Linked DNA regions of Homo sapiens. The protein of the gene in region 3 purifies or fractionates together with the protein of the main gene of each other region. This does not show direct contact. Each region holds a gene or a part of one and is shown on either strand. Other genes may lie near its edges.

Region 1 (3,917 bases), on a different chromosome or scaffold from region 3:
TTTACAAAGGGCCAGAAAACCTACAGAACATGCTTCCCTCTCAAGGGATTCTAATCCCAATTAAATGGTTCATATAGTTATAGTGAAGAGTTTGCATTTTAAATATTTTTGACAGTACTTTAATCTAATTTTTAAATTTTTCTCATTTTATGTAAATAACATGTTTTAATTTATTTTTACTCAGCCTTAGGATGAAGGATTTCCTATCATTTTATGAAGAAAATCAATAATTTCATTGACAGAAACTAGCTATGTTTTGTCAAGTAAGGTTTACCAAATATTCTATGTTTTATGGCTTGTGGTATACCTTTAGGTTCACCTACTTCCTATAGGGACGCATATGGTGGCACTTACCGGGTCTGCCTAGCTGCTCTCTATCATGTCTTAATATTGGTGACTAAGCACTTTTCTGTAAAATGTAACCAAAATGTTGAGATGTTTTTCTTTTCTCAGTACTTCTAAAGACAAATTGACATAGAGGGGAAAAAGAGACTCACAAGTTTTTGGCAGATAAATTTTTTATCTCCAAAAGTCATAAGTACAAAATGGAGTGACAAAGATTTTCACATTTTGTGCATTTCTTTGGTCACCTTTCAGCAGTTAGATAAATTACTCTTCACTTATGATTTTTGTGTGAACCTCCCTGCTCTTCACCCTCAGCTTGTTGACCTGGGACTCAGCAATGTCAGCCCGTTCCTCGGCCTCCTCCAGCTCGTGCTGGATCCTGCGGAATTTGGAGAGGTTGACGTTGGATTGTTCCTCCTGTGAATGGAAATCCATTTATGAGGGAAGAAAGTTCAGAATTTTTCCATTCTTAGGTCAGTGGATCTTGAATTTCCTTTTTACTTAAAAATGATTCACTCTAGCAGATATTTTAAGAAACCTAGAGAAATGCTCTTGAATTTTTATTTTTTTTTATTTTTGCATTAGCTTCTTGAACTCATAGATAACAAGGAAGGACAGGTGACCTTTGTATCTGAACTTTTAGAACAGCAGAACATCCTAGAGCTACTACTAAATATGCCAGGTGTCCAGCTTTGTTTTTTTTTTTGTTTGTTTGTTTGTTTTTTTCAGAATCCTGAGAATGGAACCAAACCTTTTAAGAGTGCAAGTATGCAATCTATACCAAACCAAACCATTAAGCTTGAATATAAGTTATTGCCATGTGAGTATAAATTATTGCCACTTAAGTTTAGAAATTAAGCAAGAAGTTTGTTTCCTAAAATAGTCTGAGCTGTCTCTGATTATACTTAAATATATAGCAGAGAATTTGAGCAGGTCAGTTCTAGTTTAGTCTCTGGTAATCATTCTTATTTAAAAGTCTCAGTAAGAACCTCCAAAATGTGGCATTCAAATTTAGAACAGACATAAAGCTTAGAATCATTAAATAGTATAGCTTGAGAAAAAACCTCAGCTTTTCCTCTTACAGATGAGGAAAGTAGGAACTGGAGAAAGATTAAGCAATTTGTCCGAGGTATGGACAGTAGCGTGTGTGTGTGTCCGTGCACACAAGTGTGTTTGTTTTCTCTCCCTCCCTCATTCCCCTCCATTCCCATCTTTCTCTCTCTCTTACCTTAGATGTCAGGGGTAAAATAAAAACCATCAATGAACAGAGGAACTCATTTGTGATATGTAACTATGAATATTTATATGTAGGAAGTTGAAACTATTTGATTATTAATCCAGATGAATCATGGGATACGGAAATGAGATAAAGTGGAGTGTTAAGAATCTACTGATTTGAACATAACCAAGACCTTCTGAGTTTCAGAATCTTATATTTAACTATTTACTTGACATGTTCACTTGTGTATATATGGTATTATGTATCTAAAACAGAATTCCTGTTTCTTTCTTGCCCTGCAATTCTGTTCTTCCCTTTGTTCCCCACTTAAGTGTTACATCATCCACTTGGTTACTCAAACCATAAACTTGATAAATTACTCTTAATTGCCTTTCTTTCATCTCCCAAGTGCAACCTATTAGCAATCTTGTAGTTTCTACCTCCAAAATATGTCCTGAATTTCTCCACTTCTCTCTGCTCCACTCTCTTATCCAAGCCACAGAACCGACCTGAAAAGCTTCCTAACATGTCTCTCTGCACCCACTTGTGTTACCCAGTAACCGATTCTTTACATAGTATCCCAAATGCTCTTTTTAAAAAATATAGATCAGGTAGTGACTGACCCACATTAAAACCCTCCCTGGCTTCCCAGTACCTTATTGTTCTTACCATGGCCTGGAAGACCCTATGAGCTGCCTCCTGCCTGGCTCTCCAGTCCCAGTTGTGGTGCTTTCCTCCTTTTTTTGTCTGCTTCTTGAGCCAGACTCTTTCCCACTCAAAAGCTTTGCATTTGCTCTTCCCCATCTCTAGAACATCTTCTGCTGGCTTGTCAGGTGGTTGGTTTTACCTCAGCCTTGGACCTCCATGTAGCCATTTGTTTTCTTTTGATCCTTCCTCATTTTACTCATCTTTTCTTTTGTCACTTTAACTAAACTGGCCTGGTCATGTCTGAGAAAAATCACCCCAAGGGGTTGTGAACTCACCGCTTCTTCAGCTTGTCTCTTGTAGGATTTCACCTTTGCTTGCAGTTTGTCCACCAGGTCCTGGAGCCTGAGAATATTCTTGCGGTCTTCCTCAGTCTGAAATAATGTTTTCAAGAGTAAGTTTCTTGAAAGTACAAATATTACATTTTGTCATACATATGACTTTTAATCCCATGTGGACTAAAGTGAAAACCTAGACAGGCCATTTTCCTTACTTGGTAAGTGAGTTCCTTCACTTTTCTCTCATGTTTGCGTAGACCCTTGACAGCTTCAACATTGCGCTTCTGTTCACTTTCAACTTCACCTTCAAGTTCACGAACCTACAAGAAGATGGACATTTTAAGGACATTCATTTGACGAATTTCTACTTCTTCACATGACCCACATACTTCTTCTACTCTGCTTTATATGTAGTTTTTAATGCCCTAGTTCAGTTTTCCTTATTATGAGCTTTTGGGCATGAGGGAATAGCTCTCCCTCATCTCAGTATGCCCCACATCATCTAGCAGTGCTAGGTATTCAGAATCGTGTGTTGGATTGGAATGAGATAGAAATACATGCTGATTAGGAGACCCACCCTGGCCTCCAGTTTCTGGATCTGCTTCTTCCCACCCTTCAGGGCCAGCTGCTCAGCCTCATCCAGACGATGCTGCAGGTCCTTCACCGTCTGTTCCAGGTTCTTCTTCATCCGCTCCAGATGGGCGCTGGTGTCCTGTTCCTTCTTCAGCTCCTCAGCCATCATGGCAGCCTAATTAGCAGTAAAACAGAATGGGTTAAGACAGCTAAGACAGCACATTAAGATTTAAGTTTGACCACCACTGTGTTACCCTTCACTCACATCAGTGATGGCCTTCTTGGCCTTCTCTTCTGCATTGCGGGCTTCCTGGATGATGTCTTCCATCTCTCCCTGGATTTGGGAAATGTCTGTCTCCAGCTTCTTCTTGGTGTTGATCAGGCTGGTGTTCTGTTTAAAATGTGAAATTTAGAAATATTAGGCACATGAGAGAAAAATTAGGAAACCTCATGTTCTAATGAACCATAAACTAATTAACTAAATGAATTCATTAATATTCCTCCTTGTTTCATAAATTATCTGAGTTGACATATGTTTAAAAGACAATCAACTGGCCGGGCGCGGTGGCTCATGCTTGTAATCCCAGCACTTTGGGAGGCCGAGGCGGGTGGATTACGAGATCAGGAGATCAAGACCATCCTGGCTAACACGGTGAAACCCCGTCTCCACTAAAAATACAAAAAATTAGCCGGGCGTGGTGGCGGGCGCCTGTAGTCCCAGGTACTCCGGAGGCTGAGGCAGGAGAATGGCGTGAGCCCGGGAGGTGGAGCTTGCAGCGAGCCGAGGTTGCGCCACT
Region 2 (4,681 bases), on a different chromosome or scaffold from region 3:
GCCGAGGCAAGTGGATCATGAGGTCAGGAGATTTAGACCATCCTGGCTAACACGGGGAAACCCCATCTCTACTAAAAATACAAAAAAAAAAAAAAATTAGCCGGGCATGGTGGTGGGCGCCTGTAGTCCCAGCTACTCGGGAGGCTGAGGCAGGAGAATGGCATGAACCCAGGAGGCGCAGCTTGCAGTGAGCCGAGACTGCGCCACTGCACTCCAGCCTGGGAGACAGCGAGACTCCATCTCAAAAAAAAAAAAAAGAAATGGGCCAGGCACAGTGACTCATGTCTGTAATCCCAGCACTTTGGGAGGCTGAAGCAGAAGGATCACTGGAGCCCAGGAGTTCGAGACCAGCCTGGGCAACACAGTGAACACAGTGAGACCTCGTCTCTACAAAACAACAACAAAAATTAGCCAGCACGTGCATCTGTGGTCCTAGCTACGCAAGAGCCTGAGGCAGGAGGATCACTTGAGCCCAGGAGTTCAAGGCTACAGTCAGCTACGACTGCACGACAGCACTCCAGCCTTGGTGATAGAGTGAGACAGTCTCAAGTGAAAAAAATGAAAAAAGAAATTTATCAACTGTTTGGAAAAGCAGTACATTTCTTAGAAAAAATACATTAGAAGTATTTACATCTAACCACCTATTTCATATAACATTACTGTATTTCAGGCTTTCAAAGCAATTACTAAAAACTTCGTTTTTTAAGAAAAGTAAATAAACTTGCGTTTTTAAAGGAATTTGGTCTGCTTTTAAAATCAGTGGAGCATCTTTACCAATTAAAGGCATTTTTAATTGAATATAATTTTGTGTATTATGTGACCAACTCTGTACAAGGCACTGGACAGAATGATGATCCTTTTGCAGCTAGTAATTTATGAGGCATATTAGTATCACTTACAGTGACTTTACATATGTAAGAACAAAGGGGTAGAAACACAGCTGAGGAGTACACCGAGTGATTAAGAGAAGGCTTCAAGGAGGAAAGCTATTTGAGTTGGGTATTGAAGTATGAGTTTTACAGGTTTGTAAGGATAAGGGAAAAGGGGGAGGGAAGAATGGCACAGCAACACCATTCTAAAGTGAATGTAGAACAAAGAAAATGAGACATGAAAGGACTTAAGTACCAGAAAATACGAGTTCAATGCTACAGAAGTATATAGCTTAAATGCAACTGGAAAAAAGAAATGGTGGCAGGTATAAAGACTACAGACTTCAGGGTCTGAATGTAAATGTCTTTACATGACAAACTAAGGAATTAAAATTGGATCTAAGTCTCAAGTATGAATCATGCAAGGAGAGAAGAGAAAGAGATGAGATTGGATCTGATAGTATAAGCCATAGCAAACGTATAGCTTTCCAAAAAGAGATATGACATGATTGATTTTATAGGAAAATGACACTAGCAGCAATTTGGATCTTGGACTATAGTGAGAGACCAACCAGCTACTATCCAAATCAGAAATAATGGCCAAAAGTGTTGACAGTGAGGATGAAGAAAAAAACAGATGAAAAGCAGCAGCATGGCCAGGTAAGGTGGCTCACGCCTATAATCCCAGCACTTTGGGAGGCCGAGGCAGGTGGATCACCTGAGGTTGGGAGTTCGAGACCAGCCTAACCAACATGGAGAAACCCCATCTCTATTAAAAATACAAAATCAGCCAGGCGTGGTGGTGCATGCCTGTAATCCCAGCTACTCAGGAGGCTGAGGCAGGACAATCGCTGGAACCCAAGAGGCGGAGGTTGCAGTGAGCTGAGATCGCACAATTGCACTCCAGCCTGGGCAACAAGAGCAAACTCCATCTCAAAAAAAAAAAAGAAAAGAAAAAAGAAAAGCAGCAGCTACATGTAGTAGAATCTACAGTCCTGCACTCCCACTTTGTAAATGTCCTGTATATGTGATAATTTCCCTTTTCCATATTTTTTTTTGGTATAAATGCACTTTTGGCATGCAAAAAGGTTTATACAGTAAGTTATCAAGACTGGAGGTAAGATGGCCTTTTTTTGTTTTTCCTCCCATGGTATTAGGAAGGAAAATGCAAGAACTCTTGAGTTAGATGTGGATTACAGGCTATCTCTGCTGTGACACTATGAGCATGACAGTTAACCTCTCAAAGCTCTAGGTTTCTCATTTGTAAAAAGAGGAAATTGAACTAGATGATCTAAAACTTTGGAAAGTTCTAATCCTCTGATGATACTGACAAATCTTTAATCTTCTGTAAGTGTCCAACAAAAATGCAAATACAATAATCTAACTACAAACCGATTGTGAAAAACCCATCAAACACAGGCAAATACTATTGTACCTATTAGCTATATGCATCTACATGTACTCATTGTGAAGAATTTCATGACATACATTAAGTTATGTAGTCATCAACCACTCATTTGAAACCCTGACAAAACAAACTCTGTAAGCTGTGTCAGCCATGCAAGGCACCACGCTCGGCTAATTTTTGTATTTTTAGAAGAGACGGGGTTTCGTCTTGTTGGCCAGGCTGGTCTCCTGGTCTCAGGTGATCCACCTGCCTCGGCTTCCCAAAGTGCTGGGATTAAAGGTGTGAGCCACGGCGCCCGGCCAACAAAAGAACTTTTTAACAATATTCCTTTATCGATCAAATTTTTAAATGTTTCTAACTGGAAAAATGCAGTCTTGAAATTTGTAACCATAAATTGTCATGTGCGACTTCTTAATAATGAAGAAAATTTATTTTATGAATTCTTGCTTGTATTAAAAAGTTCAGAAATATTCTGAACTTGTTTCTCTTCAAGAGTAACATTTGGCTGGGTGTGGTGGCATGAGCCTGTAATGCCAGCACTTTGGGAAGCCAGGAGTTCAAGACCAACCTGAACAACACAGCAAGACCCTGTCTGTAAAACGAAAAAACAAAAAAAGAACAACTTTTAAACCGGATTTTTTTTTTTTTTTAAAGTAAAAGAGAGTTGGAGGTCCAGCATGATGGCTCACACTTGTAATCCCAGCATTTTGGGAGGCTGAGACAGGAAGATCACTTGAGCCCAGGAGTTCAAGACTAGCTCTGGCAACACAGCAAGACCCGGTCTCTACAAAAAATATTCAAAAGTATAAATATTAAATAAAAAGGAGAGTTGGGTCAAAAGCCTCTCTTCCTGCAAAACAAAAAGGTGAACAAATAACTTTTTTTTTTTTTTGAGACAGAGTCTCGCTCTGTCGCCCTGGCTGGAGTGCAGTGGCGGGATCTCGGCTCACTGCAAGCTCCACCTCCCGGGTTCACGCCATTGTCCTGCCTCAGCCTCCCGAGCAGCTGGGACTACAAGTACCCGCCACCATGCCCGGCTAATTCCTTTTGTATTTTTAATAGAGACGGGGTTTCACCATGTTCACCAGGATGGTCTCGATCTCCTGACCTCGTGATCCACCCGCCTCGGCCTCCCAAAGTGCTGGGATTACAGGCGTGAGCCACCGCACCCGACCCAGAGAATATTTTTAATTAAAGGTGAAAAACTCAGATGTAAATCTTGCATTTCCAGCCTCTTATAAATTTGTGATATAATTAATATTGCCTAAAGTCATACTTCAAGGGAAATAACATTTTGCTAACTGTAGTATTAAACTTTTCTAATGATATTTTATTTCTTCTAATGTTTCTTCTAAAGACCTGAACAATGTTTTGGTTATATACTACATTATATATACCAGAATCATTTATCTTTAATGTAACCTATGTGATTTCTGGCTCCCTAAAATAGCATTATGCATTTTCTGAGTTAACCAAAATAAAATCTAGAAAGAGCTAAACTGTAATCTACCATGATCGGAGTGTAAAATCCTTTACTATGCAAATCTGCCCACTGTTTAAAACAGTAAAAAAAAAAAAAAAAAAAAATTTAACATGAACCCAAAGGACACAGATGTTCTTTCAAATTGCTGGTATCAATGAACATAAAATTAATCCCACTACCAACCCACAAGAGACGTGGGTGTTTACTGTAAAGTTGCAAATCTCAACCAGATCTTTCATCCAGGAAAAAAGCCTTTATTACGGTTTTTCTTATACGTAATACAGTGATTTAAACTAATGCTTTCAGATCCTGAGAGGTTTTTTTTTTTTTTAGAAAAAAAGCATTATATTTTGAAGACACACAAACTAATCTTACTCTAGTAAAGAAGCTTTATTAATTCTAATTAACAAATTTCACTCAAAAAGGAAGTGTATTCGAATCAAGTACTTTATTAGAGGGGAAAAATATTCAAAAAGAATAGAAGCAAGAATTATCTGGTTTTTGTTGTAAGCCCATACTATTCAAATACAATTCAGAAGCAGAATTTTTAACTTCTCAAAAGTTCCCTAATAAAAGAAAGCTATTTTAACAAAAAAAACACTAAGATACATTTTTTAAAACCAAAAGTATACCACAAAGTTAGCATGAGGAGTATGGGAAAAACCCACCTCAGATTTATTAACAATGTCCAAACGGAAAACTGGATGTGCTTTCCCCAAATATAACTGATAAAATTCCCACAAGAACACTAGTATAACAGGTGGAGTGGATATTCCAAAACCAAAATATGTTAATTATAGTATCTCACATTCCATGATAAGCATTCAAGGACACCTGGTAATTAAAGGAATTATGAGAAACAACTGAGTACCTTAAGGCCTGTTCAGTTACAAAAGAAAAAAAAAATTCTGCAATAATAAT
Region 3 (4,020 bases):
GTGCAGTGGTGTGATCACGACTCACTGCAGCCTCGACCTCCTAGGCTCAGATGATCCTCCCACCTCCGCCCCCAAATGGCTGGGACTGCAGGTGTGCACCACCACATCCGGCTAATTTTTTATAGAGATGGGGTTTCGCCATGTTGCCCAGGCTGGTCTCAAACTCCTGAGGTCAAGTGATCCATTGGCCTCAGCCTCCCAAAGTGCTGGGATTATAGGTGTGGGCCACTGTGCCCAACCTGTTTCAAGTTCTTGTCTGCATGTCTATTTCTACGGGAACCCTAACTAGAAACTACATTTTTTTTTTTTTGACAGTCTCGCTCTGTCGCCCAGGCTGGAGTGCAGTGGCGTGATCCTGGCTCACTGCAACCTCCGCCTCCTGGGTTCAAGTGATTCTCCTGCCTCAGCCTCCTGAGTAGCTGGGATTACAGGCGTGTGCTACCACGCCCAGCGAATTTTTGTATTTTTAGTAGAGACGGGGTTTCACCATGTTGGTCAGGCTGGTCTCGAATTCCCAACCTTGTGATCTGCCCGCCTCGGCCTCCCAACGTGCTGGGATCACAGGCGTGAGCCACCGCACCTGGCCAGAAACTACATCTTTTTAAACAAAAATGACACTTACTTACTATATAAAATGTGAGAAAATATAATCAAGCAAAAGGAAGAACATATAACTCATAATTTTATCATTTAGAGAAATATGTATTATCGATATTTTGGTATATTTTCATTTGTGTTAGTATATCTAAAAGGATCATACTGTACATATTTTGTGAGTAAGTTTTAATTATAGGAACAATTATAGCAATCAGAAACAATTTCCTTTTTGCTTTTTCCCCAAATGAAAATTCTTCAGATTTGTTTTCTCCAATAATTCTTTAAAAAGTGTCAGTGTAATCTGTTTTTCTGAGATAACCATTGTTAACTATTCTGTATATGCTTTTTCTGACTACATATTTATATACTATATTAAAATATCAATGGAAGTGTATTTTATATATTATTCTGTAACCTGCTTTTTCATTAGCAATATTATTAACATAAAAAGACGAAAAGCATAGATGTTTATTGCAGAAAAATAAGAAAGTACAGATAAACAAAAAAGAGTATTAAAAATGAAAATTGGCCGGGCACGGTGGCTGACGCCTGTAATCCCAGCACTTTGGGAGGCTGAGGCAGGCAGATCACCTGAGGTCAGGAATTTGAGACCAGCCTGACCAACATTGAGAAACCCCGATTCTACTAAAAATACAAAAATTAGCCGGGTGTGGTGGCTCATGCCTGTAATCCCAGCACTCGGGAGGCTGAGGCAGGAGAATCGCTTGAACCCGGGAGGCGGAGGTTGTGGTGAGCTGAGATCGCGCCATTGCACTCCAGCCTGGGCAACAAGAGCGAAACTCCGTTTCAGAAAAGGAAAAAAAAAAAAAAAAGGAAAATCACATCTATTGTAACAATCCAGGGATAAATACTATTAATTTTGGTGTACCTTTTCTTATCTGTTTGTTTTTTGAGAGAGTGTCACTCTATTACCCAGGCTTGAGTGCAGTGGCACCCTCTCGGCTCACTGCAACCTCCCCCTCTGGGGCTCAAGTAATCCTCTTGTCTTAGTCTCCTGAGTAGCTGGGACCACGGGCACATACCACCACGCCCGCCTAATTTTTTGTATTTTTTTGTAGAGACGGGATTTTGCCATGTTGCCTATGCTGGTCTCGAACTCCTGAGCTCAAGAGAGGCACCTGCCTCGGCCTCCCAAAGTGCTAGGATTACAAGCGTGAGCCACCATGCTGGGCCTTCTTTTTTTAGACTTAAAAAAATTTCACATAAATATTCATGTAAATAATGAGTTTAGGAATGAGATCATACTATATAAACAGTTTTGTTAACTGTCACTTAGCAATATGCTGTGAGCATTTTTCTATAATGGTAAATATTAAGATATTGTTAATGACGATATCAAAACCTTTTAACCAGCTTTCATTTGCTAAAGTTTAGAATGTTTCTTGGTTTGCAAAAAAAATTTATAAATGGTATCATTATAAACATCCTTAGAGTTAAATCGTTGGGTGCATCCATTATTATTTCCTTAGGATACATTTCAAGGAGTAAAATTATTGGGTCAAAGGTTTATACTTTTTTTTTTTTTTTTTCTGAGACAGAATCTCGCTCTGTCGCCCAGGCCTGAGTGCAGTGGCGCTATCTCGGCTCACTGCAACCTCCGCATGCCGGGTTCACGCCATTCTCCTGCCTCAGCCTCCCGAGTAGCTGGGAGTACAGGCGCCCGCCACCACGCCCGGCTAATTTTTTGTATTTTTAGTAGAGACGGGGTTTCACCGTGTTAGCCAGGATGGTCTTGATCTCCTGACCTCGTGATCCGCCCGCCTTGGCCTCCCAAAGTGCTGGGATTACAGGCGTGAGCCACTGCGCCTGGCAAAGGTTTATACATTTTAACGAGTTTGATAAATATTGCCAAATTGCCTGCCAGAGGGGTTTTGCTAATTCATACTTCTAGTAGGGAAGGAAAATTACCTTCTTTTCCTCTGGTTTTCAACAATGTTGTTTATTATAACTAAAAAAAAATCTTATTACCATGGAATTCAATTATAGTACTTGTATTTCAAGCGATCCTTTTGCCATTGACTTTTAACTTTTGAAAGGTTTTTGAAAACTGTGTAATTTGTTTCAAATTTCTTTGCATGTGAATTGTCAAATTCCCCACCACCAGAGGCATCTATGTATTTCCTCTTATTAAGTATTTAAGCATGTGAGGTCTTATCATCCATATAAATTGTAATTCGTGTTCATAAGAATTCCAGTCTGTTTAAGTTAATCCATTTCTCTAAGATGTTAATAATTCATACCAAAGTCTTACCCTTACATTGTACCTGCTGCAGTGAAATATTATCCCCAAGCTGTTTTACTATAACAAGATCGACTTTTCCTACTTCTGATTTTAAATATTTACTTTCTTTCCTTTAAAGGTTTTGCAGATGTGAATGGTTGGCACCTTCGTTTCCGCTGGTCCAAGGATGCTCCCTCAGAACTCCTGAGGAAGTTCAGAAACTATGAAATATGAAATATCTCTGCTTCAAAAAATGAGGAAGAGCAAGACTGTCCCCTATGCTGCCAACATGCAGTCTTTGTTTATGTCTTAAAAATGTCATGTTTATGTCATGTCTGTGAATTGCTGAGTACTAATTGATTCCTCCATCCTTGAATCAGTTCTCATAATGCTTTTTAAATAAGAAAAATTCAGAAGATGAATTTCTTCCAATATTTGAATAAATTAAAGCTCTTAGATACAGAGTAGATTGTATTATATGCTTTTTCCTATTAATACTACTTATAGAAATCCATTAAAAAGCAATCTCTGTACAGTGTATTTAAATATTTCATTGACATACTGTGATCTCTATTAGTGATGGATGTACAAAAAATGTTTTCTTACCCTTGACTTACAATGAAATGTGAAATTACTTGTCTGAACCCCGTGGGGAGAAATAAATAATTTTCCCAAAGTTCATAAATGAATTTATAATTCAATTTTTTTTAGGGTCTTGCTCTGTCACCCAGGCTATGCAGTGGCATAATCATAGCTCAATACAACCTCAAACTCCTGTGCTCAAATTATCCTCTTACCTCAGCCTCCCTAGTAGCTGGGACTAGAGGCACACGCCACCATGTCTGGCCAATTTTTTATTTTCTATAGAGGTGAGGTCTTGCTATGTTGCCCAAGCTAGTCTTGTACTCCTGGCCTCAAGTGATCCTCCCATCTTGGCCTCCCAAAGTGCTCAGAATACAGGCATGAGACACCATGCCCAGCCTTGATGGTATTTTAAAAATAATTTGAATAGATATTTCTAACCTAATTTTAAAAGTTATGATTTATTTGAGGAAAAAAATATATGTATATATATATTTTTTAGATGGAGTCTCACTCTGTCACCCAGGCTGGAATGCAGTAGCATGATCTCAGCTCACTGCAACCTCTGTCCCTTGGGTTCAAGTGATTCTCCTGCCTCA
Region 4 (4,681 bases), on a different chromosome or scaffold from region 3:
ATGAAAAATTAGCCCAAATTATAACAAGAACACAAGCTGTCTGTAGGGGATTCCTAATGAGGGTAGAATATCAGAAGATGTTGCAAAGGAGGTAACAATCATTCAGAATATCAGAATTATAAGGTCCCTTAAGGACTATCAATCAGTCTTGTTCATTCATTAATTCTTTCATTTGGTGGCTAATAGTTCCTCTCACCCAATTCAGAACTCACTCCTACAACACAGCAGCCTTTGCTTCAGCTCTCACACTTGGATTCCTTTCAAAACTTCTCTCCTACCTCCAGCCATCTCACATACAGCCACAGGAATAGTTTGCAGTAAGCAGTATTTTCATCAAGCTAGTTGCTTGCTTGCCTGTCAAGGCCCTCTCTATTCCCCACCTCATCTATCATTTCCAAGCACATAGCCTTTTCCAGCCAGGCTAAACAATTTGCTTATCTACTAATCTCTCATTTGCTTATCTTCTTATCTCATCTCTCCCCTCATCCTAATTTATCTATTTACCAATTTAAAACTTTAATTTCCCCTTTCTGTAACTAATCTCACCCAGTTTATCTACCCAACACTATTGCATTCCCTCTACTTACACACACACTGTGCATTCATTTTTCTTATCTGTAATCATTTAGGCCTGCACTGGAAGTGTTCCTGAGTCTTTCCCATGTGTGAACGTTATGGTTTGTGTCAAGGTATCTGCTTTCATAGAGTTACAAGTCTTAAAAACTGGACCTATAGAGATAGAATTTCCATTTTAACAAGCTTGAAGAAACATACACATTGCTACAAGTAGTCAAACCTAGCCAGTCTATGGCTATAGTTTGCAGTAGGGGTACCTTTTATTACTATTTTTCACTTTATTTCAATAAAATAAATTTTAGAGCTCAACAGATGCTGAATGCCTCGCAAATATTAACAATCCAATTAATCAGTTAAGACTGAGGCACTTGAAAGAATTTGAGATAAGCCAGTGTATTATCTGAAGAAGCTAGCAAAAAAAGTTTATAGAGTGGATAATTCAGTGTTGTTCAAAATAAGAGGAGCAACTTCAAGGAAGAGATGACAAATCATTCGCTCAGTTTAGGTGGGCCATTCAGAAGGCAACCTATGTCATTTCACAGTTCTCATCCATATGCCCACAGACAGGCAGCACAATCAACATGCAATCACCATGCCCACCCTCAAATCACTAATACTGTCATATGTCAAATGGTATGTGCTGATCATACATTCAAAATATTCACCCCTAAAGTCACTCTCTTGGCTAGTTTGATAGGGATTGAGAACACAGAAGATGTGCTCAATATGAACCGTACTCATATTAGCAAAGTGGTTATACTGAGGGCTACTGACCATGAGTGTGAGCGCGAGAATGTGTGTACATGTGTGTGTGTGTGTGTGTGTGTGTAAAGCCTGCATATAATATATAGAGAATGTGACATATTTATTTGTGAGCGGCATTCATTAAAAGGGAAATTTGTGTGTGATAAGTAACAATAACATTGGCTCTGATGGATTAGTCTACACTGATATTTTCATGTCATCGCAGAGAAGCACTTTTCTGCATCCAGTATAATGTCCGTGCCTTCATGAACGTCAAGCACTGGCCCTGGATGAAACTCTTTTTCAAGATTAAGCCCCTCCTCAAGAGTGCAGAGACCGAGAAAGAGATGGCCACCATGAAGGAAGAATTCCAGAAAACCAAAGATGAACTCGCCAAGTCAGAGGCAAAACGGAAGGAGCTAGAGGAAAAAATGGTCACTCTCTTAAAAGAGAAAAATGACCTGCAACTCCAGGTTCAATCTGTGAGTACTCCATATTCTGAATGCACCATGTTACTGAAGCTTTTTTGAAACACACATATACTTTGGATTTACAAATGATCTCTACTTGAAAAAAAATCTCAAGTTGCTGTTTTTAATACCTCATTTATCTTTTAGTATTCTATGGGGAAGAAAAGGCACAATTATTTCCAAGTTACAATGGGAAAAGGAAAGATTGAAGAATTTGTTTAAATAATATCACAAAATTTAACAGCCATGAAGGAAGTAGCTTAAAGCCAATCCCCCAAGTCTCAGTCAAATATTTTACCCCTTTGCCTGGGCTACTTTAGCCCAGCATTAAAAGTATAGCTCTATTTTCTAAATGCAAGTCTATGAGATTGTATTTAAATTCAAACTTATTTATTTCTGTATCTCCTTTCCCCAACCCCCAAGATTTAGCTCAATAAATCTATCTGTATTTAATGGAACTGAACTACCAGCATGTCAGGCAGAGCAATGTGTCCTCCTGATTCTTCCTCTGATACAAATCTCTAGTTCCTAGAGTCTGTTTATTGGTGCAGGAAGGAGGGGCAGTTGGGGTGGGGAGTAGGTTTGGCATGAACACTTTGGTCAAAGGTAACCTCCCATTTCCTTGGTTCAGCAAACCTAACAATATCATAAACTAACCTGTGAAAAGGATAGTTTTCCCACTTTTTTTCAGCAACTTTCAATTTTTCCTTCTGATACCTTCATTTATATGAAGGTTACATTTTTCCAAAAGCACAGGACCATAGCCTCTCTATCTTACCATCTTTTCACAGTTATCATTAGTCAGTGAGTAAATATGTATTGAGTGTATCACTATTAAAAATAAATATATTAAGCAGTAAAGCTCAAAAAAAGAAAAAAGAAAAGAATCCCCCAATAAGTTCCCATTATATTCCATTTAAACGTTTTTTAAACTCAAGAACAAAACAAACACTGGGAGTTAAAAAATATTCCCCAGGCCAAGGTAACCTAATAAATTAGACTGGATTGATTTTTATTTGAATCCTTTCATTAGTCACTTATAAAAACTTTATTGAGCTATACAGTTTCTGAGAATTACATTTTCTCATATATTCTAAAATTCATTTTGATAATTATTGGGAGAGGGGAGAGGGCCACAAATGGAATGGACAAGGCAAATGTGGCATAACTTAGCAACTGGTAAATCTAGGTTCATAACATATCACTGTTCATTCTATTTTTTTTTCCTAACTTGACATATGGGTTTGAACATTTTCAAAATTTCAGGGGCTCAACATAGACTTTCCACATTAACCAGATTTAGAAGGGAATGGGAAAACAAAAGCAAACAAAAACACAAAAGCAGAAAGGGCTAAGAACAGTTCATCAATCTTTCCTTAACTAGAATTGTCCTGGGCATGAGAACCTCTAGCCTAGTCAATGGTACAACTCTCTGAAAATTATGTTGCAGTTTAGGCCTATTGCCCATGTTGTGTATAAAAATGAAACAATGAAACCACAAAACTTAAAGAACATTTTTGTTACACTGGGGAAATCTGAATATAGACTGTATATTAGATAATATTATTGTATCAGTGATTAATATTTTCATTTGTAATAACAGTATTGTAGTTATATAGGAGAATGTTCATGTCCTTAGGAGAGAAATGCTAAAATATGATATCTGCCATTTACTTTCAAATGATTTAGGAGAGTGTGTGTGTGTGTGTGCGTGCACATGTGCCTATATATGTGTCTATGTGTGTGTTTAGAGAGAGAAAAAACAGTAAAATGTTAAAAATACGAGGATTTAGGTAAATGGTATATGGCAATTTATTGTATTATTCATACAGCTATTCGGTAAGTTTAACAGTTTTCAAAATAAAAGTTGGGGTAAAAGTTCCAAAAAATAAAATTCACCTTAAGACTAATGGGTAATTCTGTAAATGGAAATGTAAATTTTGAACAATTATAGCACTGTATGAACTACCAGGAAGGTTTTAGTGTATTAAAAAATACTACATGGAAATGTATTTAAATTATTTTTCTTCTTTTTCTTTCTTCAATACAGCCTAGCAATTATTGGTTTGAGGGGGACAGGGAATGATCAAAACCAAAACTAACCAATTTAACTAAATCAAAATCTTTAAATATTACAGCTGAAAAGCTCTTGGCAATCATTTATTCCAACCCATATATATATATACACAAAATTGAGAATGAAAGGAATAAAGCAATTTGCCCAAAGTCATACATATGCAAACAATATTGGGACAAGAACCCAGGCTTCCTTTTGCCCGATTTAGAGGTCTTTCCACTCTTCTACAAATTATTTTTTAAATAATCAATAGCTCCAATCCAATAACTTTGCAAACTAGTTTGCTTCTAAAGCTATAGTCTCACTTCCAATAAGCTGCATTTCTCCAGACCATGTAATAATGTTCGATTAAATTAAATTTATATTCATACTGAAAAATTCAACAGAATTCAATAAAACACTATTATTTTTGCGCAAAAAAAACACCAAGTTTCAAAATAAGTAACAGACTCTAAGTATCTGAATGAATCTCTCCATAGGAAGCAGATAGCTTGGCTGATGCAGAGGAAAGGTGTGAGCAACTGATTAAAAACAAAATCCAACTTGAGGCCAAAATCAAAGAGGTGACTGAAAGAGCTGAGGAGGAGGAAGAGATCAATGCTGAGCTGACAGCCAAGAAGAGAAAACTGGAGGATGAATGTTCAGAACTCAAGAAAGACATTGATGACCTTGAGCTGACACTGGCCAAGGTTGAGAAGGAGAAACATGCCACGGAGAACAAGGTATCAGTCATATTTTACAATACTGTATAGAGGTTCTGCCACCAACTAAATTGCTTTATAGGAGAAATAATCTCTTTCTTAACCTTTGTAGG

Evidence for each region. Proteins that work in one complex are often made in the same cells at the same time.
Region 1: the proteins of DNAJC12 (region 3) and MYH1 purify together in Homo sapiens (affinity purification with mass spectrometry; one large-scale study listed by BioGRID and IntAct). This does not show direct contact.
Region 2: the proteins of DNAJC12 (region 3) and CDK19 purify together in Homo sapiens (affinity purification with mass spectrometry; one large-scale study listed by BioGRID and IntAct). This does not show direct contact.
Region 4: the proteins of DNAJC12 (region 3) and MYH8 purify together in Homo sapiens (affinity purification with mass spectrometry; one large-scale study listed by BioGRID and IntAct). This does not show direct contact.

What each region holds. Positions count from the first base shown.
Region 1 is NC_000017.11:10,491,807-10,495,723, forward strand, and holds the end of MYH1 (myosin-1), read right to left. Parts: intron 3,512-3,917; coding exon 3,386-3,511; intron 3,296-3,385; coding exon 3,125-3,295; intron 2,868-3,124; coding exon 2,763-2,867; intron 2,644-2,762; coding exon 2,548-2,643; intron 763-2,547; coding exon 610-762; 3' UTR 501-609; downstream 1-500. UniProt on the Homo sapiens protein: Required for normal hearing. It plays a role in cochlear amplification of auditory stimuli, likely through the positive regulation of prestin (SLC26A5) activity and outer hair cell (OHC) electromotility.
Region 2 is NC_000006.12:110,808,970-110,813,650, forward strand, and holds part of CDK19 (cyclin-dependent kinase 19), read right to left. Parts: intron 1-4,681.
Region 3 is NC_000010.11:67,796,169-67,800,188, reverse strand, and holds the end of DNAJC12 (dnaJ homolog subfamily C member 12), read left to right. Parts: intron 1-2,978; coding exon 2,979-3,073; 3' UTR 3,074-3,520; downstream 3,521-4,020. UniProt on the Homo sapiens protein: Probable co-chaperone that participates in the proper folding of biopterin-dependent aromatic amino acid hydroxylases, which include phenylalanine-4-hydroxylase (PAH), tyrosine 3-monooxygenase (TH) and peripheral and neuronal tryptophan hydroxylases (TPH1 and TPH2).
Region 4 is NC_000017.11:10,401,451-10,406,131, reverse strand, and holds part of MYH8 (myosin-8), read left to right. Parts: coding exon 1-91; intron 92-1,546; coding exon 1,547-1,802; intron 1,803-4,346; coding exon 4,347-4,589; intron 4,590-4,680; coding exon 4,681-4,681. UniProt on the Homo sapiens protein: Muscle contraction.